4 linked regions of the Homo sapiens genome follow. The protein of the gene in region 1 purifies or fractionates together with the protein of each later gene. This does not show direct contact. Each region holds a gene or a part of one and is shown in the gene's direction. Other genes may lie near its edges.

What was found.
Region 2: the proteins of CYS1 (region 1) and SAR1B purify together in Homo sapiens (affinity purification with mass spectrometry; one large-scale study listed by BioGRID and IntAct). This does not show direct contact.
Region 3: the proteins of CYS1 (region 1) and DPY19L1 purify together in Homo sapiens (affinity purification with mass spectrometry; one large-scale study listed by BioGRID and IntAct). This does not show direct contact.
Region 4: the proteins of CYS1 (region 1) and RTEL1 purify together in Homo sapiens (affinity purification with mass spectrometry; one large-scale study listed by BioGRID and IntAct). This does not show direct contact.

Annotation. Positions count from the first base shown.
Region 1 is NC_000002.12:10,075,050-10,083,684, reverse strand, and holds the start of CYS1 (cystin-1), read left to right. Parts: upstream 1-3,273; 5' UTR 3,274-3,461; coding exon 3,462-3,779; intron 3,780-8,635.
Region 2 is NC_000005.10:134,625,374-134,633,284, reverse strand, and holds the start of SAR1B (small COPII coat GTPase SAR1B), read left to right. Parts: upstream 1-456; 5' UTR 457-557; intron 558-1,085; exon of another isoform or gene 1,086-1,208; intron 1,209-7,911. UniProt on the Homo sapiens protein: Small GTPase that cycles between an active GTP-bound and an inactive GDP-bound state and mainly functions in vesicle-mediated endoplasmic reticulum (ER) to Golgi transport.
Region 3 is NC_000007.14:34,938,325-34,946,235, reverse strand, and holds part of DPY19L1 (protein C-mannosyl-transferase DPY19L1), read left to right. Parts: intron 1-519; coding exon 520-569; intron 570-1,099; exon of another isoform or gene 1,100-1,190; intron 1,191-3,596; coding exon 3,597-3,621; intron 3,622-3,929; exon of another isoform or gene 3,930-4,010; intron 4,011-4,351; coding exon 4,352-4,471; intron 4,472-5,401; exon of another isoform or gene 5,402-5,476; intron 5,477-5,908; coding exon 5,909-6,083; intron 6,084-6,860; coding exon 6,861-6,960; intron 6,961-7,911. UniProt on the Homo sapiens protein: C-mannosyltransferase that mediates the C-mannosylation tryptophan residues on target proteins.
Region 4 is NC_000020.11:63,658,102-63,665,087, forward strand, and holds the start of RTEL1 (regulator of telomere elongation helicase 1), read left to right. Parts: upstream 1-210; 5' UTR 211-365; intron 366-1,131; 5' UTR 1,132-1,301; coding exon 1,302-1,403; intron 1,404-3,196; coding exon 3,197-3,395; intron 3,396-3,748; coding exon 3,749-3,842; intron 3,843-4,372; coding exon of another isoform or gene 4,373-4,444; coding exon 4,445-4,526; intron 4,527-4,727; coding exon 4,728-4,788; intron 4,789-6,986. UniProt on the Homo sapiens protein: A probable ATP-dependent DNA helicase implicated in telomere-length regulation, DNA repair and the maintenance of genomic stability. Acts as an anti-recombinase to counteract toxic recombination and limit crossover during meiosis.

The DNA of each region.
Region 1 (8,635 bases):
CCTCTTCCAGGGTTTAATTTGTTTAAGGAAAGGAAGTTCTATTTTCCCAGAGTTAAGCAGAGAGTTCCCAAACTGGGCTTCACCTTCCACCCACCATCACCAGCACCCACGAGCACTATCACCGCATAAAAGAATCCTTCAGCTGCAGGTGTGACTGCCAGATATTTTCTTAAGAAGGATTACACCCCATTTCAGTTCTCCAATATTCCTGAGACGTTGCTAACTCTTTCGGACAAAAATTCTAGAGACGATCTTAGGGACATTAGTCATGCGGAAAGCTTTTAGGTTGTTTGCTTATTATGGGAAGCTTCTAATAAAATCAATCTGAGTTTTCAGCATATTTGATGGAAGCCAGGTCTACAAATGTAGCAGATTTTAAAATGTTCTCTCAAAGTGGAAAGAATGCTGGCTCTGGCATTCCTCCCGCTGAAGCGGAGCTAATGACAAGTTTTGGGAAACAGTGTTGGAATCAAGAGTGGCCAGAAAAATTGGTTGCCCTGGGAGGTGAACACAGGGAGCTGTGGATGTATTTAAACATGAGTCACATGACTAGCTTCTATTTAGGCAGAAGCAAAACATGTTTTCCTTTAAATCATTAAACTGAGTGAACTCAAGAAAAATCTCGTTTGCCTCTAAGTGTTGTTGTTCTTTGGGGTTTAAAGAGTTTCAAGATGAGATTTGTTTTCTTAAAAACTTATATCAATAGCTTCCAAACGAGACACATCTGTAGACTTAGCGCACCCAAATGACATCTGTGTTTGGCCCCACATCCTACACCTGGATGGTTAAGATGGCACATCAAAAAAAAGGGGGGGAGAGGCCAGGCACGGTAGCTTACGCCTGTAATCCCAGCACTTAGGGAGGCCAAGGCAGGTGGATTACCTGAGGTCAGGAGTTCAAAACCAGCCTGGCGAACATGGTGAAACCCTGTCTCTACTAAAAATACAAAAATTAGCCGGATGTGGTGGTGCGTGCCTGTAATCCCAGCTGCTCAGGAGCCTGAAGCAGAAGAATCACTTGAACCCGGGAGGCGGAGGTTGCAGTGAGCAGAGATCCGGCCACTGCACTACAGCCTGTGCAACAGAGCGAGACTCCGTCTCAAAAAAAAGGCAGGGGGGATCATAAATACTTCCCTTTAAAAAATTTTTTTTCTTTTCTTTTTGCTTTTTCTTTATTGTTTGTTGTTGTTGTTGTTTGTTTTGTTTTTTTTTTTTTTTGAGACGGAGTCTCTTTGGTTGCCCAGGCTGGAGTACAGTGGTGCGATCTCGGCTCACTGCAACCTCCGCCTAACGGGTTCAAGTGACTCCTGCCTCAGGCTCCCGAGCAGCTAGGACTACAGGTGCCCTTCACCATGCCCGGCTAATTTTTGTATTTGTAGTAGAGACAGGGTTTCATCCTATTGGCCAGGCTGGTCTCGAACTCCTGACCTGAAGTGATCCGCTCGCATCAGCCTCCTAAAGTGCTGGGATTACAGCCTCATTTTTTTTCTCTTCTTTTTCTTTTCCCTCTCTGTCTCACCTCTCTTCTCTCTCTCTTTTCTTTTCTTTCTTTCTTTTTTTTTTTTTGAGACAGAGTCCAGCTCTGTTGCCCAGGCTGGAGTGCAGTGGCGTGATCTCGGCTCACTGCAACCTCCACCTCCTGGGTTCAAGTGAGCATGCCCAGCTAATTTTTGTATTTTTAGTAGAGACAGTTTCACCATGTTGGCCAGGCTGGTCTCAAACTCCTCACCTAAAGTGATCTGCTCGCCTCAACCTCTGAAAGTGTTGGGATTACAGGCATGAGCCACCACGTCCAGCTAGATTATAAATACTTTCTTGTTCTTTTTTTTTTTTTTTTTTTTGAGACGAGCCTCACTCTGTCGCCCAGGCTGGAGTGCAGTGGCGCGATCTCGGCTCACTGCAACCTCCACCTCCCGGGTTCACGCCATTCTCCTGCCTCAGTCTCCTGAGTAGCTGGGACTACAGGCGCCCGCCACCACGCCCGGCTAATTTTTTGTATTTTTAGTAGAGACGGTGTTTCACCGTGTTAGCCAGGATGGTCTCGGTCTCTTGACCTCGTGATCCACCTGCCTCGGCTTCCCAAAGTGCTGGGATTACGGGCGTGAGCCACCGCGCCCGGCCTCTTGTTCTCTCTTAATAATAAAAATAAATGGATGTGAATCTGAGTCCCATTTTTATTCCATTTTCTTAGGCATATGTTTTTTAATGTCTACTCCTGAAGTGATAAAATAGTAGAATTTCAAGTCTGTGGTTGGGAAAGTTTAGCCGAAATTCCATTTTCACAATTATTCTGGAATCCAATCAATCAGGATAAAAGTTAATGTCAAGTCAAGATAGGTGAGTTAAACCCAGGACTTTTGAATTGCCCTGTCTTGGAAAGGCTGGAATTTAAAGTTGCAGGAGGTGGGCAAGGGAAGGAAGTAATCACATTTAAGTAAAACACAGAACCAACCAACAGGAAGGCTCGCTGGGTTTGAATTCGGCAGCTTTGGAGTGTTTTCTAGTCTGGGTTGTGGTTAGTTCACTTAAAAAGAAAAGCGGTTAAGGGAAAAAAAAAAAAAATCCGAGACCAAAAGCTAGACTTATGACCACCACCTAGGTATTTCCTTTTGCTTCTTTCCTGTGGCGGGGGGAGGGCGAGGTGGGGGTTGCTTTGCCTTTCTCCTTCATTTTCAAAGTTTTTCTTTCCCAAAAGTAGTGACTATTTGGAGGTTTTGATGAGGCTCAACCTTCACACATCCAGTCTCCGCTGGGGCAACAGAGGGAAGGAGAAGGCCGGAGGGGGCTGTTGGTGCCCGGAGGATCGCCCCTTCCCTCCCGGGGCGTCTCAGGCCTGGCGGACACTGAAAGGTCGGGGCGCACTGACGGCCGGACCTCGCGAACGCAGCGCGCGCAGCCCTCAGGGTCTTTCCCCCGCCCACCCCGCGCATCGCTAGGGGGCTCAGGCTTTGGGAAGTCCCCCCAAGCTCCCGCGGCCTCCCACGGGCCCGGCGAGCGTCGTCTGGGGAGCGTTTCCATAAATGAACAAACTCAGCCGGGCCCCCCGCAGGGTTCAGCAATTCCAGAAGGCCGGGACAGGGCTGACCCGACGGCGGGGAGCGAGGGGACCCGTGGGCGGGAGTGGGGGGACTGTAGGGGGAGACCCGGGAGGGGAGGCCGCGCCCGCACCCGGTGCTCCTCGCCGGGGTCTCGGGCCCGCCCCTCCCTAGGGCCGGTGTGCGCCCCCTCGGGACGCCTATGCAGCCCTGCCTCGCCCGCCCCTCCCCAGGCTCCGGCTCGCACCCCCGTCCTCCGGCCGCGACCCCCGCCCGGGAACCCTAGCCCCTGGCCGCGGTCGCTTCCCGGACCTCGCCCCGCGCCTCCCCCTGCAGCCCGCCCCGGCCGCACCCCCTAGCGTCCCCGCCCCCGGCCGCGCCCCCTCATGGGGGCCCCCTCGGCGGTCCGGGAGGCGGCGGGCGCGCCATGGGCAGCGGCAGCAGCCGGAGCAGCCGGACTCTGAGGCGGCGGCGCAGCCCCGAGAGCCTCCCCGCGGGGCCCGGAGCGGCAGCCCTGGAGGGCGGGACCCGCCGGCGGGTGCCGGTGGCGGCGGCCGAGGTCCCGGGGGCAGCCGCGGAGGAGGCGCCCGGCCGCGACCCCAGCCCCGTGGCGCCCCCCGACGGCAGGGACGAGACGCTGCGCCTGCTGGACGAGCTGCTGGCCGAGTCGGCGGCCTGGGGCCCCCCGGAGCCCGCCCCGCGCCGCCCAGCCCGGCTCCGACCCACCGCGGTCGCGGGGAGCGCGGTGAGTGTGGGAGCCGCAGGGCCTCGGGGGACGGCGGGGACCCCACTCACCGGCCGCGCGTCCCCGCCCCAGCCCTGGGCGCCGGTCGCGCTGCGCCCCCTTCCAGCCTCCGACTTGCGTGCTCCCCGCTGCCCCGGCCTCCCCGCCCCTGGGCCCCCAGGTTTCCTCCCTCTCTGCCCCGTCTCCGGGTCTGTGTCCAGGCGTGGGGGCGATCGCGCTGGGAGCGGCCGAGGAAGGACACCCCTAGGCGGAGCGCGCCGGGCTCCCGGCTCCCCTCGGGCCCGCGGCCCCGCCTGGCCTTCCCGGGCCGCCCTGGAGCGGGGCGCCGGCGGTGGTGGCACGGCAGCCAGACGGTGGCTCAGAAGCGCCCTGCCGCGCCCACCGGTCCAGATCCTTGCCTTGCTGGGCAGGCAATTCTCATGTTACTGATATTTTTAGGATGCTGCGGAATCTCTTTTGCGCTTCCTATTCTCTCTCCCTGAATACTCGTAATAACAGTCCTGCTGTTCTAAAAAAACAATAAAACAAGCACTCTGGTTTGGCAACCGTCTTCGCTCCAGCAGAGCTGAATGAACAAGATCTTTAACATCCGCTCCCGGGCTCGGGGAGGATGCCAAGGGCCTCGTCCTCCTCCCTGAGGCCCGGGAGGCTTTGCTTAGCAGCCGCTGGGAGCCGAGGAAGATGCCTTCCTGGGTGGCTACCGCACCAAGGAATCCTGAAAAGGCCCCAGGGAGGGTGGGGGAGAGGGACAGCCCCAGGCGACAGTGCACAGAGCTCTCTCCCTCTGGCCCTGGTTCCCTGCTCCTCTCCCTTACGGTCTTTAAAGAGGAAAAGCGAGCTGCAGTGAGTAGGGCTGAATTATATAACAAGATTCCTTTAATACCACATCAGCCTGCAGTTATATAACACTGCCTGGACAAATAGCTGAGAAATTTGGGAGGAATTCACACATAGCAAGGAGGCAGTTAATTTTAGTGTTCATTTTCAAGTGCTTTGGAAACTCGGAGGTGAAAATGAGAGGCAAATAGCAAGAGTGAATGTTGTGCCCTCTGATTTGCTGATATTATTCATCATGGTGACTGCTCGCTCTTTAAGTCATTTTCCAGCTATCCTTTGAGCACCGGTCCCGCTGTGGGTGCTAGGGATGAGGCCACACAGCATAGCCCTTGCCTTAAAGAAGTCTGCAGCTCGATGGGGGAAAGTAGAAAGCAGGGCGATGAGAGATCCGTATCAAAAGGCCACAGGAGAAAGCGGCTAATCCCAAGGGAGGCAGGTAGGCATTCCCGAAGGGATGAATTTGGAAGTTGTCCTGAATCTGGAAGGGTCTGTGGACGTGATCCAGGCAGCAAGTTCTGTGCAGAGAGAACCTCATGCCTAATGTCACTGGTGGCTGGGGCAGCTGGTGCCCAGGGCATGGGTCAGAGAGGTCTTAGGAGAGTATGCCAGGCTGCAGTGCGCCATGCCAAGGGTATTCCATGTTAGCGAGTTTGGGTTACTATGAAAGTTCTGGGTATCTGAAAGGTAAGGATTGTGACAGTTTGTGTTTTAGGAACGTCACACCGACAACTGTAGGGAGGATGAACTGGACAGAGTCAGACTAGGGATAACATGACCACCTGTGTGAGTGGGTGGGGGAGTCTGCAATGATCCAGGTGGCCGAGTCCTGAACCAAGGCAGTGGCGGTGAGAGGCTTGCAGAGGAGATGGTTTCAGGAATTGTTGAGGAGGTCAGCCAGCTGCAGTTGCCCTTCTGGGTGTGAACTGTGTGTATCTTTTTTCTTTCTTTCTTTTTTTTTTTTTTGAAACGGAGTTTCACTCTGTTGCCCAGGCTAGAGTCCAGTGGTGTGATCCCGGCTCACTGCAACCTGTGCCTCCCAGGTTCAAGCGATTCTCTTGCCTCAGCCTTCTGAGTATCTGGGATTACAGGTGCCTGCCACCACGCCCAATTTTTGTATTTTTAGAAGAGACGGGGTTTTGCCATGATGGCCAGGCTGGTTTCAAACTCCTGACCTCAGGTGACCCGCCCACCTTGGTCTCCGAAAGTGCTGGGATTATAGGCATGAGCCACCTCACCCAGCCGACTGTATGTATTTTCTGCACCATAAATATTTCTTGAATAAATGAATCCTAGAATCACAGATTATTCGAGGCGGAAGGGAGCCCTTGGGTCCAATTCATTATTTTCAGATAACGCCTGCATACTACAGATGTGCGCCACCACGGCCAGCTAATTTTTGTATTTTTAGCAGAAACAGGGTTTCACCATGTTGGCCAGGCTGGTCTTGAACTCCTGACCTCAGGTGATTCACCCGCCTTGACTTCCCAAAGTGCTGGGATTACAGGTGTGAGCCACTGCACCCGGCCAATAACACTACTTTTAGTTTCTTTAGGAAGAAAGGAGGAAAAGAAACCTTTAATAGCTTCATAACTGTCTAGCATTTTGGAGGAGAGACATATTCTTCATAAAAGAACATCAAACTCAAGTGAAAGTTATTCTTTTAAGCACTCACATTTAAAAATTTTGACCACTGTTGACTGGGAATGTCTTAGAGATGGTCTGTTTATCCCTGAATCATCATTCTGAATATTATGTTTTGTTTTTGTTTTTGTTTTTTGAGACAGAGTCTCGCTGGAGTGAAGAAAGGGGGAGTGAGGTGGCAGGCACAGAAGCTGGGGTTGTGCTGGGGGAGGGGAGCTTCTGCAGTCATCCAAGTGAGATGTGGGGTCATTTGGACCAGGTTGGCGGGCGGTGGTGAGGGGCGGTTGGCTTATGGACTCACTAGTGGGGTGACTGGGATGTGTGAGAAAGAAAGGAATCAAAGGTGAACCAGGAGTTCTTGGCCAGAGCAGCTGGAGGGATGTAGCTGCCGTGAACAGACACAGAAAATGTGGAAGGGGCAGGTTTGGGGTGTCATTAACCAGGAAGTTGGTTTTCAGTATGTTAAATTTGAGATGCCTGTCAGACATCCAAACAGAAATGTCAAGTGAGTAGATCTTTGTAAGAGTTTGGCATTCAGGGGAGAGGTCAGGTTTGGAGTTCGTTTAGAAGCCATTAGAACATGGGAGGATTTAAACCCATGAGATTAGATGGGATCACCAGTGACGATGCTGCCAGCGTGTGCTTAGGAAGCATGGATGGGCACCGGGCTCTGTCCTGGGAGCTTCGTGTATGTGAACTAACGTGGGACGAGGCCAGGGGTTGAGCACGCTGTTCAAAGGTTGAGGAGATAGAGGCATCCTAAAGAACAGCCAGTAAAGGGGAGAAAACCAAGAGAACATCCGGAAGCCAAGGGAGGAAGGTGCTTAGGACGGAGGGCGTGCTCAGCTGCTGGAAGTGCTGCTTGGTGGGATATATGCGGGAAGCCTGAGAGCTGGTGGTTGAATTGAGCCACTCGGGAGGTCTCAAGGTCCTTGGTGAGAGATGGGTCAGAGAGTGGTGGGAGGCGCCTTGGGCTGGAGTTCATGGAGAATAGGACACAAGGAGGGCGGTGCAGTCAGCTCTTGTAGGAAGGCTCTTTTTACAGCGCAGCAGTAGTGGATGGCGGTAGGGATGGTGCTGCTGGACCTGGAATTCACCAGAAAATCTTAGTCCCAGAATGGGCTGGATAAGAGGAGGTTTTGAGCATTAGATGCCCTCGTGAAATTTGAAGGAACCCTTGGAGAAGAAATTTTGGTTTAATCAAGTAGACATAGATTCAGTATTTTAATTTTAATTTTTATTTTATTTTTGAGATGGAATCTTGGTCTGTCGCCCAGGCTGGAGTGCATCGGCTCACTGCAACCTCTGCCTCCAGGATTCAAGCAATTCTCCTGTCTCAGCATCCCGAGTAGCTGGGACTATAGGAGCATGCCACCACGCCTGGCTAATTTTTTTGTATTTTTAGTAGAGATGGGGTTTCACTATATTAGTCAGGCTGTTCTTGAACTCCTGACCTCAGGTGGTCCCCCTGCCTTGGCCTCCCAAAGTGCTGGGATTACAGGTGTAAGTCACTGTGCCTAGCCAGATTCAGTATTTTTATTAGCAGGTGGTAATTCAGATTGTTTTCCTCCCTCTGCCTATAAACCTGGGTCACTCAAGGTCAAGGGAAGTACGTTATCTGAGAATTTTTCTGTTTTGCAAGAGAGTCTCGGGCAATAGTGTCCTCTCCTTAGGCTGAGGGACTCTGTCATCCACCATTTTTGGAAAGGTTCCATTTGCTGTAGCCATGGAGCATCCGGATAATTCTTTCTTGCCTGTTACCCCAGCCAGGACTTTACAGTAATCTTGGCATGCAGCTGCTATGGAACTCACGGTGTAAAGAGAGCAGTCACAGTGAGTGCCTGGCGGGACAGCACCTCCACAGAAGGACGTCAAGGTGATGGGTAACTTAATGGACTTGCAGCAAAACAAAGTCACTGTCCTGAAGACGGTGACTATCTGCCTGCGTTCAAGTCTGTAGCAAAGAACACAAATTTAAATGGCAATGAGTGATATTTCAATTGATCCAGGGGACAAGAAGAAAGGATGGTGCGGACCCCCAAAAAGCTCATAACCGTGTTGGGAAGGGGTGCGTAAATGCACGTTTGCAAGTTCCCGTGGAAGCATGTTGTAAAGGCATGCTCCAGTGCGTCTGCACACGTGGAGGCGTGGGAATCCCACCCGAGGCAGAAGTCTTCCAGTGGATCTGGTGTCTGAGTTGGTTCTAAAGGATCACTAATGTGTTCCAGCGGTTGACAAAGGGTGGAGCTTTCCATAAAGAGGAAACAATGTGTAGAAAACTCCAGAGGTCCAGAAGCGATTTTTTTTTTTTTTTGAGATGGAGTCTCACTCTATCTTGCCCAGGCTGGAGTGCAGTGGCGCATTCTCGGCTCACTGCA
Region 2 (7,911 bases), on another chromosome or scaffold:
AGCCTGGGCGACAAAATCGAGGCTCCGTTTCAAAAAAAAAAAAAATTAGCCGGACAGTGGTGGCGGGTGCCTGTAGTCCCCGCTACTGGGGAGGCTGAGGTAGGAGAATCTCTTGAATCCAGGGGGTGGAGGCTGCAGTGAGCCGAGATCGTGCCACTGCACCCCAGCCTGGGAGACAGAGCGAGACAACGTCTCAAAAAAAAAAAATGCCAAAAGTAATTTCCCCTAGGGAGGCATGGGGTGTTCCTTTCTCGGCACGCAGGCCCCTAAAATCCCTTCGGGCGGGCGGGTGTGGGGAGACCAGGCGGCTGGGAGACCCAGGCGGTGTTAGGGGTTGCGAGCAGCCTCGCTCAACTGGGGAATTGGCGGCAAGACTGCCAGGAGGCGGAACCTAGGGCGCTCGGCGACGCGGTCCTGCGGACTGTCGCTAGTGAGGCACCCGCCGGCCCGGAAGGGGCTGATGCGAACTGGGGCCACGGCAGCCATCGCGCTTTGCAGTTCGGTCTCCTGGTGTACGGCCAACGCCAAGTAGGGGATTGCGTTCCCTCCAGTCGCAGGTGAGTGACAGCCCCTCCTTCTGGGAGGACCGGTGGGCAGCAGCTATGGATCCCCTAGAAGGCGCACTTTTAGGGCCAAGACCTACTCTGAGTCCCTGCCTGTGGCACTGCGTGAAGGGGCGCCTGTTTTTCACCCCGGGGTTAGGCGGCGCGAGGGAGGACAGGTCTCATCCATGCTCCGCGGGGCCGTCTGATAGCCCTCGAGGCAGAACACTGCTGCTGTCAGACGCTTGGTCTTTTCAGGAAAGAACGAGGTGGCTGCAGGCAAGCCCCTTCCTTCCCCTGGGCCTCAGTTTCCTTACCTGGTAAGGTGAAGGTGGCGGGTCTCACTGACAGCTGAAGAGGCTGTGACACGGCCTGGTGTTTTCAGCGCTCCCAATTAGTGTAGAGGCAAATTGAGCTTCCTTACTAGTACTGGTTAACGTTTTCCGTAGCCCAAAGTCCCAGTTAAGTGGAAAAAAGATACACTGTTGAGAAAACTGTACTGATTTTTGTTTTAATTTTTTAAATTTTTGTTGTTGTTTTGAGACAGAGTTTCCCTCTTGTCGCCCAGGCTGGAGTGAAGTGGCACGATCTCGGCTTACTGCAAGCTCCGCCTCCCGGGTTCACGCCATTCTCCTGCCTCAGCCTCCCGAGTAGCTGGGACTACAGGTGCCCGCCACCACGCACCGCTAATTTTTTTGTATTTTTTAGTAGAGATGGGGTTTCACCGTGTTAGCCAGGATGGTCTCTTATCTCCTGACCTCGTGATCCGCCTGCCTCGGCCTCCCAAAGTGCTGGGATTATAGGCGTGAGCCACCGCATCCGGTCTAACTTTTCTATTTTTAGTAGAGATGGGATTTCTCTATGTTGGCCAGTCTGGTCTCCAACTCCTGACCTCAGGTGATCTGCTCGCCTCGGCCTCCCAAAGTGCTGGGATTAAAGGCATGAGCCACCTCAGTGGGCCACTGTACTGATTTTTAAGGTGTTGAAGCTTTTCCAAGAAGATTTGTTTTAAAACAGCTAAAACTTTGACATTGTTAGCTGAAAGAACCAAATTCGTCAGCAATTTAAGGTGTTTGGTACAGTGGACAAAATGAGGTGAAGAAGTCCTTTTAACTTGAAAAATTAAACATAGTATTATTTATTTGTGTGTTCTTACATCAGCCTCTATATTACTAAGTGTCTTTGAAGACGTCCTATATTCCGTGTTAAAGTATCAGTGAAGAGTAGGTCACATTGAAACAATGAAAGAAGGAAAGAAAAGGAACATTTATTGACTACTATGAGTAAGGCACTAGCTGTCATTTTACAGATGACAAATAAATGGTGGTGCCAGTATAGCAAAGCAACATGATTATCTACTATTATACCTTTCAGTAGACTTGTGTCTGTCACCAAAATGTTTTGAACTTAAAAAATGTTAAGATAGTTCATTGGCATTTTCTGAGTTTGTAGAAAAGGAAGGTGTCTTCATTTTAGAAATGTCAGAGATGCACTGTCAGTAATTACAAAGATTAGCAGTTTAAATAAGGTATATTTTAACCTTCCTTTGACTTGCATTATTGTACTGGAATAGAAATTCAAGCAAGAATTAAGAAAAAAGATGAGTCTAACAGAAATGAAAATCAGCCTGGGCAACATAGCAAGACCCAGTCTCTACATTAAAAAAAAAAAAATTTGCTGGGTGCAGGGCCCTGGCTAGCAGGCCAGTAGTCCCAGCTACTCGCTGCTGAGATGGGGGGTTTGCTTGAAGCCAGGTCAAGACTACAGTGACCTGTGATCATGCCACTGCACTCCAGCCTGGGTGAAAGAAAAAGACATTGTTGCTAAAAAAAAAAAAAAAAAAAAAAAAAAAAGAAAAAAAAAGAAATAGAAAAGGAAATGAAAATCATTGCCACATCATTTGAAGCTTACAAGTTGGAATGCTATATTAGTATTTCTTTTCTTTTTTCTTTTTTTTTTTTTTTGAGACGGAGTCTCGCTCTATCGCCCAGGCTGGAGTGCAGTGGCTCCAGGCTGACTGCAACCTCCACCTCCAGGGTTCAAGTGATTCTCCTGCCTCAGCCTCTCAAGTAGCTAGGATTACAGGCATGCACCACCACATCCTGCTGATTTTTGTATTTTTAGTAGAGATGGGGTTTCACCATGTTGGCCAGGCTGGTCTTGAACTCCCGAACTCAAGTGATCTGTCCGGCTTGGCCTCCTAAAGTGCTTGGATTACAGGCGTGAGCCACTGTGTCCTGCTATAGGTGTATTTCTACACTTACTTTTTTTTTTTTTTTTTTTTTTGAGATAGAGTTTCGCTCTTGTTGCCCAGGCTGGAGTGCAATGGCGTGATCTCCAGCTCACTGCAACCTCTGCCTCCTGGGTTCAAGCGATTCTCCTGCCTCAGCCTCCCGAGTAGCTGGGATTACAGGCATACACCACCACACTCAGCTAATCTTGTATTTTTAGTAGAAACAAGATTTTTCCTTTTTGGTCAGGCTGGTCTCGAACTCCCAACCTCAGGTGATCCGCCCCCCTCAGCCTCCCAAAGTGCTGGGATTACAGGCGTGAGCCACCTCCCCCAGCCTTCTACACTCATTTCGTTAAGTACTCACTTGGCTGAGCATAGTATTTCTACGCTCGCTCACTTTAAATACTCATCCCAACTCGGGGTTTCACTATGTTGGCCAGGCTGGTCTCGAACTCCTGACCTCAAGTGATCTGCCTGCCTTGGCCTCCTAAAGTGCTGAGATTACAGATATGAGCCACTGTGCCCAGCCCTCACCTTGGCCACTCTTAAAAATTTTCTACTATTTATATTTGTCATGGTTTTATCCTTCGTTTTCTTTTTCTTTTTTTTCTTTTTTTTTTTTTTGAGACAGAATGTTGCCCTGTTGCCTAGGCTGGAGTGCAGTGCCACGATCTTGGCTCACTGCAACCTCCGTCTCCCGGGTTCAAGCAATTCTCATACCTCAGCTTCCTGAGTAGATGGAACTACAGGTGCCTACCACCACACCCAGCTAATTGTTTTTTTTTGTTTGTTTGTTTGTTTGTTTGTTTTTTTGAGATGGAGTCTTGCTCTGTCGCCCAGGCTGGAGTGCAGTGGCGCGATCTTGGCTCACTGCAACCTCTGCCTCCCAGGTTCAAGCGATTCTCCTGCCTCAGCCTCCTGAGTAGCTGGGATTACAGGTGCACGCCACCATGCCCAGCTAATTTTTGTATTTTTAGTAGAGAAGGTGTTTTACCATGTTAGTCAGGCTGGTCTTGAACTCCTGACCTCGTGATCTGCCCGCCTCGGCCTCCCAAAGTGCTGGGATTACAGGGGTGAGCCACCGTGCCTGGCCTATTTTTGTATTTTTTCTTTTGTAGAGACGGGGTCTTCCCATGTTGCCCAGTCTGGTCTCAAACTCCTGGGTTCAAGTGATCCCCCCACCTCGGCCTCCCAAAGTGCTGGGATTACAGGCATGAGCCACTGCACCTGGCCTATTTTTGTATTTTTTTTGTAGAGATGGGGACTTCCCATGTTTCCCAGGTTGGTCTGAAACTCCTGGGTTCAAGTGATCCCCCCACCTTGGCCTCCCAAAGTGCTGGGATTACAGGTATGAGCCATCATGCCCAGTTCATCCTTCTTTTTTTTTTTTTTTTAAAGACAGGGTCTCACTATGTTGCCCAGGTTGGAATGCAGTGGTGTGATCATAGCTCACTGCTTGAATTCTTGGGCTCAAGCAATCCTCCAGCCTCAGCCTCCTGAGTAGCTGGGACTACAGTTTCTTGCTACCATACCCAGGTAATTTAAAAAATTTTTTGTACCGGGCATGGTGGCTCACATCTGTAATCCCAGCACTTTGGGACACCGAGGCGAGTGGATCTCGAGGTCAGGAGTTCAAGACCAGCCTGGCTAAGATGGTGAAACCCTGTCCCTACTAGAAATACAAAAAAATTAGCTGGGCTTGGTGGTGGGTGCCTGTAATCCCTGCTACTTGGGAGGCTGAGGCAGAGAATTGCTTGAACCCAGGAGGTGGAGGTTGCAGTGAGCCAAGATTGTGCCACTGCACTCCAGCCTGGGCGACAGAGTGAGACTTAGTCTCAAAAAAAAAAAATTTTTTTTTTAGAGATGGGATCTTGTTATGTTGCTCAGGCTGGTCTTTAACTCCTGGTCTCAGGTGATCCTCCTGCCTTCGCCTCCCAAACTGCAGGGATTACAGACATGAGCCACTGTGCTCAGCCTGGATATTTGTATTCTAGGACAGTTACTACACCCATTTCACCATAGCATTACCATGCTTTGCATCCCAAAGTTATTAGTGCATTGATTCTACAATCATACTCTGATGTCATATTTGCCTCTTTAGACTATTAGGTCCCTTATTTTCTCCCAATAGTACTTTTTGGGTATTTGTATTTTGTCATCTTATGTGTATTTTTTTTTTTTACAGGACCCCTGAGAACTAATGTGTATTTTTTATTTTTATTTTATTTTTTTGAGGCAGGGTCTCACTGTCACCAAGTGCATGCTATCACATCTGGCTAATTTTTGTATTTTTTATAGAAATGGGGTTTTTCCACGTTGCCAAGGCTGGTCACAAACTAAATATGTATTTTTTTTCTTTTTTTTTTGAGACGGAGTCTTGCTCTGTCACCCCGGCTGGAGTGCAGTGCAGTGGCACGATCTCGGCTCACTGCAACCTCTGCCTCCCAGGTTTGAGCGATTCTCCTGCCTCAGCCTCCTGAGTAGCTGGGATTATAGGCATGCACCACCATGCCCGGCTAATTTTGTATTTTTAGTAGAGATGGGGTTTCTCCATGTTGGTCAGGCTGGTCTCGAACTCCCGAACTCAGGTGATCTGCCCGCCTCGGCCTCCCAAAGTGCTGGGATTACAGGCGTGAGCCACTGCTCCCGGCCCTTAATGTGTGGTTTTATTTATTTATTTATTTATTTATTTATTTATTTATTTATTTTTTGGGATGGAGTCTCGCTCTGTCGCCCAGGCTGGAGTGCAGTGGCGCAATCTCGGCTCACTGCAAGCTCTGCCTCCTGGTTTCACGCCATTCTCCTGCCTCAGCCTCCCGAGCAGCTGGGACTACAGGCGTCCACTACCACGCCCGGCTAATTTTTCTGTATTTTTGGTAGAGACGGGGTTTCACCGTGTTAGTCAGGATGGTCTCGATCTCCTGACCTCGTGATCCGCCCGCCTCGGCCTCCCAAAGTGCTGGGATTACAGGCGTGAGCCACCACGCCCGGCCGGTTTTAAAAAGTAAATGAGCCAGGCATAGTGGCCTATGCCTGTAGCCCCCAGGTACTCAGGAGGTTGAGGTGGGAGGATTGCTTGAGTCCCCGAGATTGAGGTTGCAGTGAGCAGAGACGGCGCTCCCTGGGTGAGAGGGAGACTCTGTCAAAAAAATAAAAAGTGGCGGGGCGCGGTGGCTCACGCCTGTAATCCCAACACTTTGGGAGGCCAAGGAGGGCGGATTACGAGGTCAGGAGATCGAGACCATCCTGGCTAACATGGTGAAACCCCGTCGCTACTAAAAATATAAAAAATTAGCCAGGCGTGGTGGCAGGCTCCTGTAGTCCCAGCTACTCGGGAGGCTGAGGCAGGAGAATGGCGTGAACCTGGGAGGTGGAGCTTACAGTGAGAGGAGATCGCGCCAGTGCACTCCATCCTGGGCGACAGGCGAGACTCTGTCTCAAAAAAAAAAGTAAATGGTTTTGTGTAATTACTCATGTAAATCAGTTTTAAATATTAAATGCCATATAAGCTTTTTAAAATTTGCTTTTAAAATTTTTCTATAATAGCTTTTTTGAGATATAGTTGATATACCATAAAATCGACCTTTTAAAATTGTACATTAAGTGTTTTTAGTATAGTCACATTGTTGTGTAAACATCACCACTATCTAATTCCAGAACATGTGATCATCCCAAGAAGAAACCCAGTACCCATTAGCAATCATTCCCCATTTTTCCTTCCTTCAGTCTGACAACCACTAATATACTTACTCTATGGATTTATCTATCCAGGATATTTCATTTAAATGAGCCATCCATGTAGTTTAATGGAACAAGGCTTTAAGAAGTTACTTGTAATCTGAGATTCTGTTCCATTACATCCTTTGCACTGGTTTTCATGTTACTTGAGTAGATCACTTTTCTAATCTGCAGAGAGACTTTTCCTGTTTGGTATTGGTGCAATAAATAAATCTGCTGACGTGTGTATGTTTCCTTGTTCTTGACCTTTGCTCTTCACATGTCTTAATAGTGTGTTCATGGTGTTGTGTAACCTGTTTTCTGGGCTCAGGTATCTGTTTGCAGCTAAGTAACTTTTATTCTTAGTTGGGCATTTTTACTTCTACTTAAAATAACAATAAAAAAACAGTTAATTCTGTTTCTAATTACTCCTAGTTTGTTTTAAGGTTCCTAGAAACCACATTTTTTTTTTTTTTTTTTTTTTTTTTTTTTTTGAGGCAGAGTCTTGCTCTGTGGCCCAGGCTGTGGTGCAGTGGCTCGATCTCGGCTCAGTGCAACCTCTGCCTCCTGGGTTCAAGTGATTCCCCTGCCTCAGCCTCCTGGGTAGCTGGGATTACAGGTGTGCACCACCACACCCAGCTAATTTTTGTATTTTTAGTAGAGATGGGGTTTTGCCACGTTGGCCAGGCTGATCTTGAACTCCTGACCTCAGGTGATCCACCCGCCTCAGCCTCCCAAAGTCCTGGGATTACAGGTGTGAGCCATTGTGCCTGGCTGAAACCACAATTTTAAAGAAATATATATATTATTATCTTCCAAAGCAGAGTTTGTGTCTTCTTAGATTATCTCTCTTGGGACAAATTTTACAACAGCAAATTGGTACCATCCTTATGCAAAAAATCCTTTTTCTGTCAAGGCTTTTCACCATTCTTTAGCTCTCACCTACCAACAATCATCTTCAGTGAGGACTTTGCCACTTGATTCACAGTCTGTATCAGTGCCCTCCAGTCTTCCAGGTGATTACACTGCCTGTCAATGTGGACAGTGTACCCTCTAGCCTGGCTTCCAGTATCTGTCACCTCCATTTTTCTTTATCGTCCATGCCAGAGCCAGGCCTTGGAGTTTGCCACCACCCAACCCTGAACTTCTCTTGAATTCTTGAACCCCCTATATTCTCTTCCACTTTGCTGGCACAATTCTGGCACTCCTTTCACCTCTCTCACCCTTTTCTGTTTTTGGCTTAGAGACTTTTTCTACCCTATTTTCCCAATTCTGTTCTGTTGAGAAGCCTGCCTTTGATCACCGCTCCATCTCTGTATACTACCTTTCTTTACCTTTGTCCACTCAACTTGAACTTCTGATCAGATCCCTACAGCCCTCTCACTAGTACTCTCAAAATCCTGTTCCCCTTGTCCTTTT
Region 3 (7,911 bases), on another chromosome or scaffold:
GAATATTTGTACTGGAGATACGATTTTAGATTAGATGACCTCCTCATTATTGCTGAATATGAAAGCACAGTGACTGTGTTTTGAATGCTTCCAGCTGTGATTATCAACCTCTGAGCCAGCTCTCCAGTTTTCTGAGTGCACTGTTAAGAAGAGGTGTTGCCAACAACGTTGGCATGGTGGAAGCAGCGCTGAATGTGAATTTGAAGCCAGAAGATCTGGTTTCAAGACTGCAGTGCTTCTTAGTAGTTGTCTACCTACAGGGCAATCATTTAATCCATATGAACCTGTTGCTCATTTACAAAACGAGGATGATATAATCTACCCAACAGGGTTGTTGAATATTAGCTTTGATCAGATACTATACAAATATAAGATTATGTTGTTGTGATTATTATTTTCTGAGTTATCTCTATACTTATATTTTCATTAAAAGTTATTTTACAGTTTAGAAGATACTTTATTTAAAATATCATTTTTCCCAACACAGCTTTTCTAAAGTGTTTCAAAATCTATTTACAGATTATTAGTGATATGTGGGGTGTCTTAGCTAAACAACAGACACATGTAAGGTAAATATGCTATTAAGAATTTTATTACCTCCTCTGTTCATTTATTAAATAGATATTTACAGTGTATTAATTGTATACTTACATGTTGTGTACCTAATATTTGATAATTGATGTTTTTATTGTGGTCATTTCCCTTCCTGGCATTTCTTCTTATTTCCTATCTGTGCAGAACACAGCACATCACTTATTCATCCTTCAGATGTTATCCAGTACAGTCTGACAGTAGCCCTGCACATAATCTACACTCAAAGGACACAGTTTTGTACTTCATTTCAGCAGGGAAAGTAAATTATTACGTGAGTGGTTTTAGGACCAGTGGACTGCCTTTTTGGAAATGAGCAGGGAAATATAAAACTGGATTCATACCTCACTTTTTACAGAAAATAAATTTCAGATGAACCAGAGAATTATGTATAGGAAAAAAAAAACCCAAAATTAACCAAGAGGGTTTGTTTATAACCTGAGAGTTAGAGAGGCCTATAGCATGCTTGGTATTTTCCACCATCACACCCTTTGTCTTACTCTCTTACCATTTGTCACCCTTTGTACTTAAATGTTGATGTGTGACCCGTATCTCCTGAAGGGAGCGATCATTTTTGTTCAACAGTTTATATACAGTGCCTGCAAGATAGTAAAGGATAGTAGTTGAATGAGTATTTACATATGACTAATGAACATGAAAAGGTAGTCTTGATCCTATGGTAAAGCCATTCAGGTTAAAGTGAAGACCTTTTCACTTCTTATATTTCTAAAAATTAATAGTATATCCAATGCTTGCAAGAGTGGGAGGTAGTAGATGGGAGGGAAGTTTGGCAATACACAGTAAAACATATAGTGGGCCTGTCCTTTAGCCCTGCAGGTTCCACCAGTGCAAGTGTACCCTCTAGAGATGCTCACAGAAATACAGAGATGATGGGGAGAGATGCCTTTTGTAGTATTGTGTGTTATGTGAGAAATGGAAACATCCAAAATATCTACTATGATACATAGAGTGGAATGTTAGGCTATCTTTCTGGAAATAGGTCCAGTATACATTATTGAATTTTTAAAATTGCCAGTGTGTGTGTGTATAGGATAATTATACTTCTCTTTAAAATTTAGAGATTTTTATGTGTTTGTGCATAGAAATGATCCGGAAAGATAAATCCTGTAATTATTAAGAGTGGGATTAGAGGATGGAGTGAAGGTAGTTTTAACTCTACTTTTATTCTTTTGTGGGATTTTGGGGGGAGAAGGATTGTCGAATGTGTATGTATCTATATTTTCTTTTTTTTAATTTTTCTTTTTTTTTTTTTTTTTTTGAGACAGAGCCTCACTCTGTCACCCAGGCTGGAGGAGTGCAGTGGCACGATCTCGGCTCACTGCAACCTCCGCCTCCCGGGTTCAGGCGATTCGTCTGCCTCAGCCTCCTGAATAGCTAAGACTACAGGCGACCACCACCACGCCCAGCTAATTTTTGTATTTTTAGTAGAGACGGGGTTTCACCATATTGGCCAGGCTGGTCTTGAACTCATGAACTCGTGATCTGCCTGCCTTAGCCTCCCAAAGTGCTGGGATTATAGGCATGAGCCACTGCGCCTGGCCCTATATTTTATTTTATAATTTGAATATACACACCCTTGTATTATTCCCTCACCTCCAAGTCTCTGCCAACATAATGATAAATTATTGCACATACTCCTGAGAGAATCCTTGTTCTCATTTAGAAACAATTTACTGTAACATATACAGGTATATGTTTATACCTGTAACATTTGAGTTGAGGGCTAAGGGGGAAAGAAAAACGTTCTGGTTTACAATGCCGAAATTTTTCATTTGAGGTGAAATTATTTTTGAAGAGCTCAGGAAGAAGCTACAAAGTTTCAGCTGTAGTATGCAACTCTGGAAGAGGAAGGTGGAACTTCTCACAGAAACAAAGCTGTCCCTTCAAGAGTAATAACTCACCTATAGAAGTAATTATAGGAAACCATTGAGCTTCATGGAGTTGTCAGTTCAAATAGGATCAGAGCTCTTTTTTGGAAGAGGAGTGGCATGTTGACATTTTATTTTGCATAGCTACCAAAGCCAGTGTAAAAAGGAGAAGAGTAGGACATAAATTTTAACTATCAAAGACATGAATGCCAATATTCTCTTTACTCAAAGACCCAGGAAGTAAAGTGGGATAGAGACAGCATGATGTAGTAAAAAGTATATTGGCTCTGAAGTCAGTCAGAATATAGTCCTGGCTGCCACTTACTAGCTCTGTGATTCCTTTCCTTGGCTGTAAATTGGGGTAATAAATGGTTGTAGGATTAGAGTTAATGGAATGTACTAAGCATATTAACATTGTAAGTACTCAACAAATGGTAACTGATAGTTTTTACTTGGTGTGAAAGAAGAATAAAGAACTGTTTCATCTCCTTCACTAGCCCCTTATGTGTCCTGAGTTTGCTAATATATCAGTCTTTTTGAGGCTAGATTCTCAAATTAGATTATATGCTACCTGGATTAACAGTTTATTGATACACTTGTTCATTCATTAAAAATGTTGAGCTCTAAGTGTCAGGTATTACTCTAGGTCTTGGGAACATATCAGTGCTTAAGAAAGAGAAGGTGTGTGTTGTCAACTCACACATTTCTGTCTCTGACCCAGACTTCTCCCTTGAACTCAGATTTACACATATAACCACGTATTTGTTATCTCTACTTGGTTGCCTAGTGAAAATCTCAAAGGTTTTTTTCATTCCATGCTTTGCTGGGGTATCACCAGTGAGGGAGCTGGGACACCACCGTGTGCCTTTGTTGTCCTAATAAATACCCATGTAGTCAAATAGGATATAATACAACATTGTCATTCTTCATAAATTTTCTTAAAATAGTATAGCACCAGTTTTGGCATGTGACTTTTAGTTATTTTGATTTGCCTGTGTGTGTCCTGAGAGAATGTTATAGAAGTTGTAAAACTCCTGTTTGCAAGATGAAAATGCAAATATATGACGTAAGTGCTTCAATAATGAATTGATGGCAATATATTTTTTTCTGTTCCAGAAAACACCAGTTTGATCATGGAGAGGTAAAGACTTAATATGACTATAATTTTACTTATCTTAAAGTTGCATGCATTTGGACTTTCCTTTCTAGTTCCAGTTTCTAACTTTGTTGGCAATTGTCAGCAATCATCTTGAAAATAGCCTGTTATGTGTTTTTATGAGAATGCTATATGCAGATTCACTGACTATTCATTTGTTAAAATTAACTAGGAAACTCATATGTTCTGCTCTGATCATCTTTACACTAATGGCAGTTGATTTCTGGAGCCCATTTAGACATATGTATGAGGTGTCTATTGCATGATTGGAAATCACTTTCCTCTCTGCTCACCTTGCTTGAGGCCTCAGAGATGTGATTGGTTACTGCTCCCATCTCCTAGTTGTCCAGTCTGGTTTTGAGGGCAGTTCCAAGGTGGAGCCCTCAGATCTTGAGGCAGCAGTCATTTCTTTTACCACTGTCTTTTCTTGGTCTGATGGTAGCATCAAGGTTGATTAAAAAATGTGGGCTTTATTAACCACAGGTTTGACTCTGAGAATCACAGAAACACTTGCCTTAATGACTTTATAATTTTAGCCTTCCACTAAAATGGAACAGTTTGAAAGTGAATTTTAAGAATTGTTTTCGAAGTTTCAGAAACCTTAGTAGTATTTTTTGTTACTAAGGAGAACGTACCCCTTTCTGCATATTGCCAGTTTAGTATTCTTAAACTTCACAAACAGTAGGAGTAAAAAACATTTTCTTCTTTCTTTCAGCTGGTTTACCATGCATTGCAATTGTTAGCATATACAGCCCTTGGTATTTTAATTATGAGACTAAAACTCTTCTTGACACCACACATGTGTGTTATGGCATCACTGATCTGCTCAAGACAGGTAACATGTTATGTTGGAGTATAGCTACTATGATAATTTTAGCCTTTATTATTGAGTGGCCCTAAAATAATGAATTACAAAGTCTTTTAAGTGATTATAGTTAAAGCTCTTCATGGTTTTGTACTTATCTTTCTTAAAGGGTAAGGGCCAAAGCTGATCATTTTCTATCTTTCTAAAGATTTAAAATAGTTGTTGGTGTACAACTAATACCGATTTAGTACAGACTGAGTTCATGAGTGATTACTGCAGGTGCTGATAGAAAGCAGAGCTTAATTGTACAAATAATAACTTTTTTTGTTTTGACATTCATATCACAAAGAAATCTAATAATTTCAGGTTATAAGTGCTTGAAAATTATATGTTCTTTTTTTAGTATCAAACTTATTTTTTTTTCAGTTGGTGCAATTTGTGTGCACATTCTTGACTTGTGCTTTTTAAAATTTAGTTTAAGCCTTCCTTGGTGGTTTGCTGCTTATTTTTCCTGGATAGCTGCCTCCTTGTTCTGTATTCACAGATTTATGCTTCTCCATAGTGTCACCTTTCCATCAGTCAACCAGCCTAGGTACAACAGCAGCACCTCCCTTAGACGTAGCAGATAGTCACTAAGCACCTACACTGCGCACTCTAGGGATGGAGGAGAGAGTAGTAGACAGAAAAGTCAAAAGCCAGTGTTTATAAGCCCTCAAGAAACTTGAAATCTAGCTCTGTAGACATGTGGAGAAAGATCAAGAGAACAAAGTGTTGTTATGGAGTGTGGACTATTTGGATGTGGAAAAAATTAGCCAGCCTTGAGGTTCCCAATCAGTATGTTGTATTATGTTAGAAAGGCACTACTTTCTACCTTTCTGACCCCTTCAGGCTGGCACAGGAAAGGAGGCTGGTTGGAAGCCTTTAATCTTGAGTCTTATCCCACAGCATGACTGATGATATAGGTTGGTGCAAAAGTAATTGTGGATTTTGTCGTTAAAAATAGCAAAACCCGCAATTACTTTTGCACCAACCTAATAGAAAGTGTCACCCAGGGCAGGTTTTCCAAGTGTGGGGTTCCTGCTGGTCACACAGGACCTCACATTCAGGACCCTGAACTTGATTGAATGTTTGCTGCTGCTGTTTTGAACGTCTTAATTTTTTAACAAGAGACCCCACATTTTTGTTTTGTACTGGGCCTTGTAAATTGGTTGTGGCTTTACTTGAATCTGGGAGTAGTGAAAGCAGGTTGAGAAAAGAGCTTCCTACATTGTGTTCCACTTATATGAGGCTGATGGTAGAATCCTTTTGATCCCAAAGATTATTATTTTGGGGCTTTTTCTTTAGGATAATTAATCCTTTATTTGGGACTCTAGCAGAGGCCTTATTCTTCTCTGGGAAGAAGTTTTGCATAACAGATGCATACTACTTATACTAACAATTACCAATGTATTCTTAATTTGGTTTCAGCTATTTGGATGGCTCTTTTGCAAAGTACATCCTGGTGCTATTGTGTTTGCTATATTAGCAGCAATGTCAATACAAGGTTCAGCAAATCTGCAAACCCAGTGGAATATTGTAGGGGAGTTCAGCAATTTGCCCCAAGAAGAACTTATAGAATGGATCAAATATAGTACTAAACCAGGTAAAAAAAAAAAAAAGAAAAAAAAAGTCATATTATTTAGCTGTTTTTCCCACAATTTTATATACCACTGCAAACTCTTAAACCCTAGTTACTTCCACTGATCTCACTCTTTCTATGCAATGTTGCTTTTAGAATATCTAAAACAAAGGAGATATCAATCCTGTTTAAATGGTTTGCAGGGGAAATGTTATACATATGTTCTTAGTAATTTATTCTGCCATTTTTTATAGATTTTAATTTTTTCAAAATTTATTCACAGTCATAAATGCCACATTTAAAATAATTTTTCCTGTGCTTATTTTCTTAATGAATTTTTAATATTAGTCCTTCACATTCCTTCTTGAAATAAACTCATGGAATGTGACATTTTATTCATGTGTGGAAAGGGAGACTTTGTTGTCATCTGAGTATCAAATGATTGAATACTAAATCATCTTCCAGAACTCCTTGTTACTGTAAAGCTTTCCTAGTCCATTTGATACTTCTTTTTTAGATTCAGGAAAGATTTCTAAGATTTTTTCTTTAAAGAAAGAAAGAAATCTTTAATGATGAGATGATGAAGCTCTGTTTTCCAAGGAAAATAGTTTACCCAGGCCTGGCTGCCAACTGCTACTTTATCAGCCATCTGACTTCATGCTAGTTCTGCCATTGAATCTTGAAGTCATGAACCTGCTGGGCTTCCGCTCTGTTACCTGTGAAATAATTGATTTACACTTGAAGGAGACACCTTCTCGCCTTCACTGAGTGTCTTCCTGAGACATTCCTCTTGCCTTCCAGATGCAGTGTTTGCGGGTGCCATGCCCACGATGGCAAGTGTTAAGCTCTCTGCACTTCGGCCCATTGTGAATCATCCACATTATGAAGACGCAGGCTTGAGGTCAGTGCACAGTCTTGCATCATCAAAACAAACCTCCCATGCAAACAGACAGTGAGTGGAGGACACCAGCAAAGTAATAAGGAATGTTTCAAAAGGATATGATGAACTGAGGCTTATCGAGTCAGGGAGCAGAAAGCTGAAATAAGACCGCTAAGCTCTAAACAAATCCGTTAAAGCTTCACAGGGCAGGAAAGTGACAACTTTGGGGGCTCTCTTCTCTACCAGGCATATAAACGAAGTCATACTATAGCACTTTCCCACAGGTTAACAGGGCTCTAAAATGTCCAAGTCCTTTTCATCCTGTAACTCCCTGGGGAGTTTAGCTTAGAGTGTTTATTAAGGTTTTCTCATAGGTGATTTTTCTTGAGTTTGGAGAAGTCATTTGAAATAGAATCCCATTCAAAGAGGAGTTTATTCTGGTTTTCACCAGTATAGCCTGTTAGAATGATCTTGGGTGTTTTATGTTTTTTTAGATTTTTTTGAGACTTTAAAAAATAATTTAGAGATGTGTTGTCCAAATTTTTTTTTAAAAATTTAATTTTTCTTGCAGTTTCTAAGGCAGGTGAAGCTATTCATTTTCTAAGTGATTAGGTGAATCTTATTAGCATCTTCTTTTTCATAACAATGGCATGTACATTCACAAATAAGCTTTTTCATTAAAAAATCAATCTCATCAAGCTAATTTCCAGACCAATTTTGTTAAATAAGTTTAGTTTTTCTTAAATCTAGAAATAAAATGAAGAACCATTTAATGTGAATTATTGTTGATGTCTAAGTTGGGACTGTTGCAGCTTCACAGTAGTCCTATAGTTGTGTTTGTTGTAGTTCATCCCTGTTCACACACAGGGTACCTTACTCTTACATGTGATAGCGAAGTGAAGAATTTAAGACAAATAAATAAGTGAACAAACACAAAGAGACCAAGTTTGGGAATGTAGGGGTGTGTTAAAG
Region 4 (6,986 bases), on another chromosome or scaffold:
TGGTGGGGGAATGACATCAAGGGAGGAGACGGGCGGGACCCCAGATTTCTGCCTGTGGGCGATGGAAGTGAGGTTCACTGGCCAGCGGAGCCGGACACAGAACGCGCAAAACGCCGTGTAGGCCTGGAGGAGCCGAAGAGCAGGCGGACCCCCTCCGCGGGGGAACAGTTTCCGCCGGGAGCACAAAGCAACGGACCGGAAGTGGGGGGCGGAAGTGCAGTGGGCTCAGCGCCGACTGCGCGCCTCTGCCCGCGAAAACTCTGAGCTGGCTGACAGCTGGGGACGGGTGGCGGCCCTCGACTGGAGTCGGTTGAGTTCCTGAGGGACCCCGGTTCTGGAAGGTTCGCCGCGGAGACAAGTGAGCAGTGAGTCGCAGTGACCCTACAAGTGGTTCTTTTACCCGAGCGGCTCGTAGGCGCGTTGCGGTTTTTCGAAACTACAGCTCCCGGCAGGCCCCAAGCCGCCCTCGGGGCCGCGGGTCGGCGGATTGGCCGCGCTGCATTTTGGGACCTGTAGTTTCCTGCGCTCGTGGCGCTGGCGCCGCGGCGTTGGCTGAGCCCTTGACCGGGGCTGGAGGGAAGGGCCGACATTCAGTGTGTCCGCGTCTGTTCTGTTAGTCCCAGTTCCCGGGCGGGATTGAGGCTTAGAGAAGTTGAGTGATTTGCTGAGGGCTGCACGGGTTGGCATCCCGGCATGCTCTTTCGCTACTTTGGCTGCATCTGGTTGCCCACCCGGGCGGATGGGGAATGGACTCCAGCCAGCCAGGAGGGCAGAGGGCTGGAGAGGCAGGGCCGGAGGTTCAGACCCTCCGCTCTGACGTTGCGCCTGGTGAGGCCGGGAGGGGTGCCGCTTGCCTCTTCAGCCCTCACGCTCTTGTGGAAGTCGCGGAATTACTGCAGGCGGAACTTGCAGCACTGTGGGCGTCTTTTCCAGAGAAGGACGGAGTTGTGGGGCGGGAGGATAAGGCAAGGCCCAGCCACTTCGCATCTTCGCCCCGCCAGCTCCTCGAGATGGGATATACCAGGGTTGCTCTCCAACCCTCTCCGCAGGAGGGACTGATGGAAACGCCTGGGAAAGTAGCCCGGTACCCACAAAGGCTGTCTACAAACAGAGTCTTACTGTCTTTCCCAGGTCTGTGCCATAGGGATTCTCGAAGAGAACAGCGTTGTGTCCCAGTGCACATGCTCGCATCGCTTACCAGGAGTGCCCGAGACCCTAAGATGTTCGGAGTGGTTTTTTCGCACAGACCCGAATAGCCTGCCCCTCAGCCACGCTCTGTGCCCTTCTGAGAACAGGCTGATATGCCCAAGATAGTCCTGAATGGTGTGACCGTAGACTTCCCTTTCCAGCCCTACAAATGCCAACAGGAGTACATGACCAAGGTCCTGGAATGTCTGCAGCAGGTAGAGCACAGGCCCCGAGGAAAGGACTGCGGGTGGGTGGAGCTTCAGCCAGGACGGGGTGTGCTTCCCTCTCCCGGCCCATTCCAGCCAGGCCCCTCCGGGCCAGAGGCAGCGTCTGTCATAAAAAGGGCTGGTGTTCCAGGTGGGGTCAGAGAGAGGATTGACAAGTAAAAACGATCGTCCTTTGAAGGGGGCCGGCCCCTCCACACCTGTGGGTATTTCTCATCAGGCGGGACGAGAGACTGAGAAAATGAATAAGACACAGAGACAAAGTATAGAGAGAAAAGTGGGCCCAGGGGACCGGCGCTCAGCATACAGAGGACCTGCACCGGCACCAGTCTCTGAGTTTCCTCAGTATTCATTAATTACTATTTTCACTATCTCAGCAAGAGGAATGCGGCAGGACAGCAAGGTGATAGTGGGGAGAAGGTCAGCAAGAAAACGTGAGCAAAGGAATCTGGGTCACAAATAAGTTCAAGGGAAGGTACTATGCCTGGATGTGCACGTAGGCTAGTTTTATGCTTTTCTCCACCCAAACATCTCGGTGGAGTAAAGAGTAACAGAGCAGCATTGCTGCCAATATGTCTCGCCTCCTGCCACAGGGCGGCTTTTCTCCTATCTCAGAATTGAACAAATGTACAATCGGGTTTTATACCGAAACATTCAGTTCCCAGGGGCAGGCAGGAGACAGTGGCCTTCCTCTATCTCGACTGCAAGAGGCTTTCCTCTTTTACTAATCCTCAGCACAGACCCTTCACGGGTGTTGGGCTGGGGGACTGTCAGGTCTTTCCCATCCCACGAGGCCATATTTCAGACTATCACATGGAGAGAAACCTTGGGCAATACCCGGCTTTCCAGGGCAGAGGTCCCTGCGGCTTTCCGCAGTGCATCGTGCCCCTGGTTTATCGAGACTGGAGAATGGCGATGACTTTTACCAAGCATACTGCCTGTAAACATATTGTTAACAAGGCACGTTCTGCACAGCTCTAGATCCCTTAAACCTTGATTCCATACAACACATGTTTCTGTGAGCTCAAGGCTGGGGCAAAGTTACAGATTAACAGCATCTTAGGGCAAAGCAATTGTTCAGGGTACAGGTCAAAATGGAGTGTGTTATGTCTTCCCTTTCTACATAGACACAGTAACAGTCTGATCTCTCTTTTCCCTACAGTCCTTGAGGGTGACAGACTTAGGAGTGCCTTGGGGGCCTCTCTGAGGAGCAGCTGATATTCACGGGTCAGGAGGAAGCATTTCCATTAGAGGGGCAGCCGGTGGCCAGCCTCACTTGGAAGGTCTTTGAACCTCGGGGGTGCAGGGAGGTGGCAGTGGTGCAGGTTGCCTTCTCCTGGGTTCCTTGAGGTGCCCTCTTGTACCCGGCTCACACCCTTCCCCTCCCCGAGTTTCCTGCTCAGGTTCCCGTCTGAGAGCTTGTATGTAGGACGTCAGATAGGACAGCATAAATGTTTGGATCCAGAAACGCAGAACAGTTTCCTATTTTGAGACTTGACACCTAATTAGTCATCTTACTATTTAAGCTGAAAAATAGTGTCGTGTTTTGGGTAACGTTCTGCAAATCGTTTGCTAATGGCGGCTGAGTTGCTTCACGCCCTTTAGGGCAAGAGTGGGACTTGCCTGTGGACTTCTCCGCGGTCCCACAGGGCTCTCGCCACCTGGCAGTGGCCTCTGCATCTGCAAAGAGCTGCCCGCTGGCTGCCGAAGCTTGTCTCAGGGCAGCTTGTGTGGCCTCGCCTCTTCCTGGCTTCCCCGTAACCCTTGCTCCGAACTCCGTTCAGAAGGTGAATGGCATCCTGGAGAGCCCTACGGGTACAGGGAAGACGCTGTGCCTGCTGTGCACCACGCTGGCCTGGCGAGAACACCTCCGAGACGGCATCTCTGCCCGCAAGATTGCCGAGAGGGCGCAAGGAGAGCTTTTCCCGGATCGGGCCTTGTCATCCTGGGGCAACGCTGCTGCTGCTGCTGGAGACCCCATAGGTGACCCTAGTTCCCAGGCCTCTCCTGGCCTCCTGTGGGGATGGTTGGCAAGGGATGGCGCTGAGGGTGGGGTGGGCCCATGGGGACTCCTGCCGTCTCTCAAGCAGAACTCAAGGAGAATTTTTTAGCTGCTGTATAATTTCTCGCCATCGTGGGTGTAAACCTAGGGTTGGGCTTTTTTGCTGAATTAGGGCACGGCAGATGCCCACTTCACCCATTTTTGATAAACCAGTATCTGGGGTGTCAGATTCTTGGCTGTCTGCAGGGCCGAGTTAGCCGAATGCCACCTGCCTTTGATACGTGAGAACGTTGTCTGAGAACCGTGACTTCTGTGCTTGCTTGTGTCTGGTCAGCTTGCTACACGGACATCCCAAAGATTATTTACGCCTCCAGGACCCACTCGCAACTCACACAGGTCATCAACGAGCTTCGGAACACCTCCTACCGGTGGGTCAGACGAGTTTACACCTGTCTCGGGGTCCTCAAGAGAACCAGCTTGGCATGGTGCTGAGTCCACAGCCCCATGCTGTGCTGTGGTGGAGGGTGGTGGTCTTTCTAGACGCTCCCCCGAAGTGTGCAGAGCGCTGGTGCCCAGGGGTGGGGTGCGGCCTGGGCTGCCTCCAATGCCCATTACTTGTGAGGAAGCAGCTTTGCATCTGTGTGCTGACCTTGGGCGGGCGTCCTGAGCTCCTCGCAGGTGCTGTTGTAGCAGCTGTGCAGTAGGTCAGGGCTGGCCCCCAGTGCAGCTTTGCACATGAAGTAGGAGGAGGCCCTGCTGCTTGTCAGAGCCCAGCAGAGTCTTGGTGTTCTGTCGGGTTCCTGTGGCCGGACCAGTGGCAGGGTGCTGTGGAAGCTGTCGAATCTCCTCCCTCTGTCCAGTACCCCCGCTCGTCTTCTAGCTCCCTCCTACGCCCGGGCCACGTTTCAGTTATGCTCACTTCCTCTGACCGCCGAGGCTCCTGCGTGTCTCCATACAGCTCACGCTGCAGGGCCACGCTGTGGGTGTTGGAGACAGCTCCTCCTCGACCCACGGTGCTCTCTCCCACCAGGCCTAAGGTGTGTGTGCTGGGCTCCCGGGAGCAGCTGTGCATCCATCCTGAGGTGAAGAAACAAGAGAGTAACCATCTACAGGTAGGCTCCTGGGCTCCCGCTCCGGCTCAGTGTCCGACAGGCGAGTGCTGCTGGGTGTCCAGAGCCCCAGGCTGCGCTCCCGCTGGGCTAGGGTTTGAAGTTCACTGGGGGACTGCAGGGGAGGACCTGGTGGGGGTGGGGACTGGCTTCGGTCCTTTCTTGGCCGTGCTTCAGCTGCGCACTCTGCCCTTCCTCCCACAGATCCACTTGTGCCGTAAGAAGGTGGCAAGTCGCTCCTGTCATTTCTACAACAACGTAGAAGGTACAAGCAGCTGGGTGGGACCAGGGTCGGGTTGGAGTGTGTGCAGCCTCTCAGGGTGGAGCTCAGTGGTGTCACAGCCTGGTTGTGCTTGCCCGGTGGGGCGGCCAGTGCGGCCATGTACCTGGGCCCTGTCTTCTGACTCGGGGCCACCCATGTTAGACTTCTGTGTGGAAGAGCTCACACAGTGGTCTGAGACAGCCAGCCGGCAAGACTGCCTCTGGCTGGTGCCTGGGGCCTTGGATTTTGGGAAGGCTCCCTCCATTTCCTGATGAGAGGGTCTCCCTGCACCTAACCTGCTGGTGCAAACAGTAGGGGTTTTGCTGAACACCGGCTTTCTCTTCGGGGACTTTGTTGCTTGCCCAGCAGCAGGTGCTCCAGTGACCGGCCCTCATACCATCTTGGGAGGGTGTCCTGGAAGCCGTGTCTGGCCTCCCGCGACCCTGCCCCGTGTGTCTTTTTCCTGTGCTGACCTTGCTGCGGAAAATTATGGCCCTGAGTGTGACTCCAGGCTGAGTCCTGTGGGTCCAACACGGGATGCCTTGGGGCCTCTTCTGGAGACGGGATGTGAGTGACAGGAGCCGGCCGGGGCAGCTTGCCCTGTGACTGCACGTGGCCACAGCCTGTGAGGGCCGGGGGTGCTTCTCCACCCACGTGGCTGCCCCTCGGGTATGTCAAGGGCTTCTGGGGCTCATCACGGGGTCCTAGAGACAGTGGCAGGGTGCACCCCCGTTGGCTGCCCTTACAGTTTCTGTGACCTGAGGGTGGCATCTGTGCAGTCGGCGCGGTCTGTGCTTCTGTGGGATCAGGGTTCCCTCTGTTTCCTGCCTCAGTTGGGGCTCAAGCCTCAGGTGAGGTGGCCCCGGAGCACTCAGAAGGCATCGGCGGTCCTGTGGGCTGCTTTCTGCACTCACGTTTGCTGAGTGCTCAGTGTGCCAGGACTGAGGACCCTGAAGCTGCTCTTGTATTTAGGGCGGCGCTCCCCTGGCAGAGACTGAGCCAGGTGGTCCCGCATGACCCACTACCAGGCGTTTCTGGGCCCTGGCCCTTGGAGGGACAGGGTGGGCGGAACATGGGCCTGCAGGGAGGCTCCCGCTTACTGGAGGCATGTGCTGTGTTGCTGGAGACATCCTCTGTGTTGCTTCTTGTTCGCTGTGGTTTTTGGTCTGGTGGCACCAAGGACCCTCAGTCATCTTGATGTGTGGTTGTCCAGGCCTTTTTGTTGGTCCTAAGAAGGGGCTCTGCCTTTGTGCCCCCAGGTTCCCTGACAGGAGCTGCCGGCTCGTCCCGGTGATGCCTGCAGGACGTGACTCTGGGACGGGGGGTTGGGCAGATGTGCTGATGGAAATTCTCAAGCAGGCGTCATTTCCGAGGTCCTCACCTGGATTTCCAGGACAGGAGTGCCTGCTGGGTGTCCCCAGTCCCATGCAGCGGGGGTCCTTGGGATAGCATGGAACGCTGAGCATGGGCCTGGCCGGCCGTGGTCCTGGACAAGGGCAGTGCCCCGGTGGCTGCTGGGCCTGGGACCTGGTGGGGACGCTGGGCCTGGTACCTGGTGGGGATGCTGGGCCTGGGACCTGGTGGGGAGGCCTCTGACTGCCTCCTGGTGCTGCTTCCGTCTGTGTTAGGCCTCTGGGTATTGGGGCCCCCATCTGTCTCCTCCTCCAGGCCTGTGGACTCAGACCAGGAAGACACAGGCCAGCCCCTGCCTGTCCCCCTTGGCTTGGGCTCTCACTGCCCGACCTGGCGGGAGGTTGCCTAGCCGTGAACCTTCGCACCCTGTCTGCCACCGGACAGGCTGTGAGGGGGTGTCTGCAGCACCTGCACCGGCCTGAGCATCTTCAGAGTGGGCTGCAGCTCCTGGAGGGGTCTGAGAGGAAGGGAGGCAGGTATTTTGGGCGAATGAGGAGACAGCTGGAGAGCTGGCACCCTTCCTGGCCTGCGTCCTGTGAGGACTCTGGTTGGGGACAGCAAGCTTGGGGTCAGCCTGGGGCAGAGCCTCTGGGACGGCCCCGCCCCTCGTGCCCCTTCCCCTCGCAGCTCCTGTCCTCGCCCCGCCCTCAGCTCTCCGCCAGGCAAGGTTTGGCAAGTGCCGCTGTGCGGCAGTGCCTGCTGATTGGCTGGTCTGTTGCTATGGTGCTGCCCAGGGGTGTGCTTTTCCTCCCCTGCCTTCCCTGCTATCCCTGGGAGTATCTGGGGTT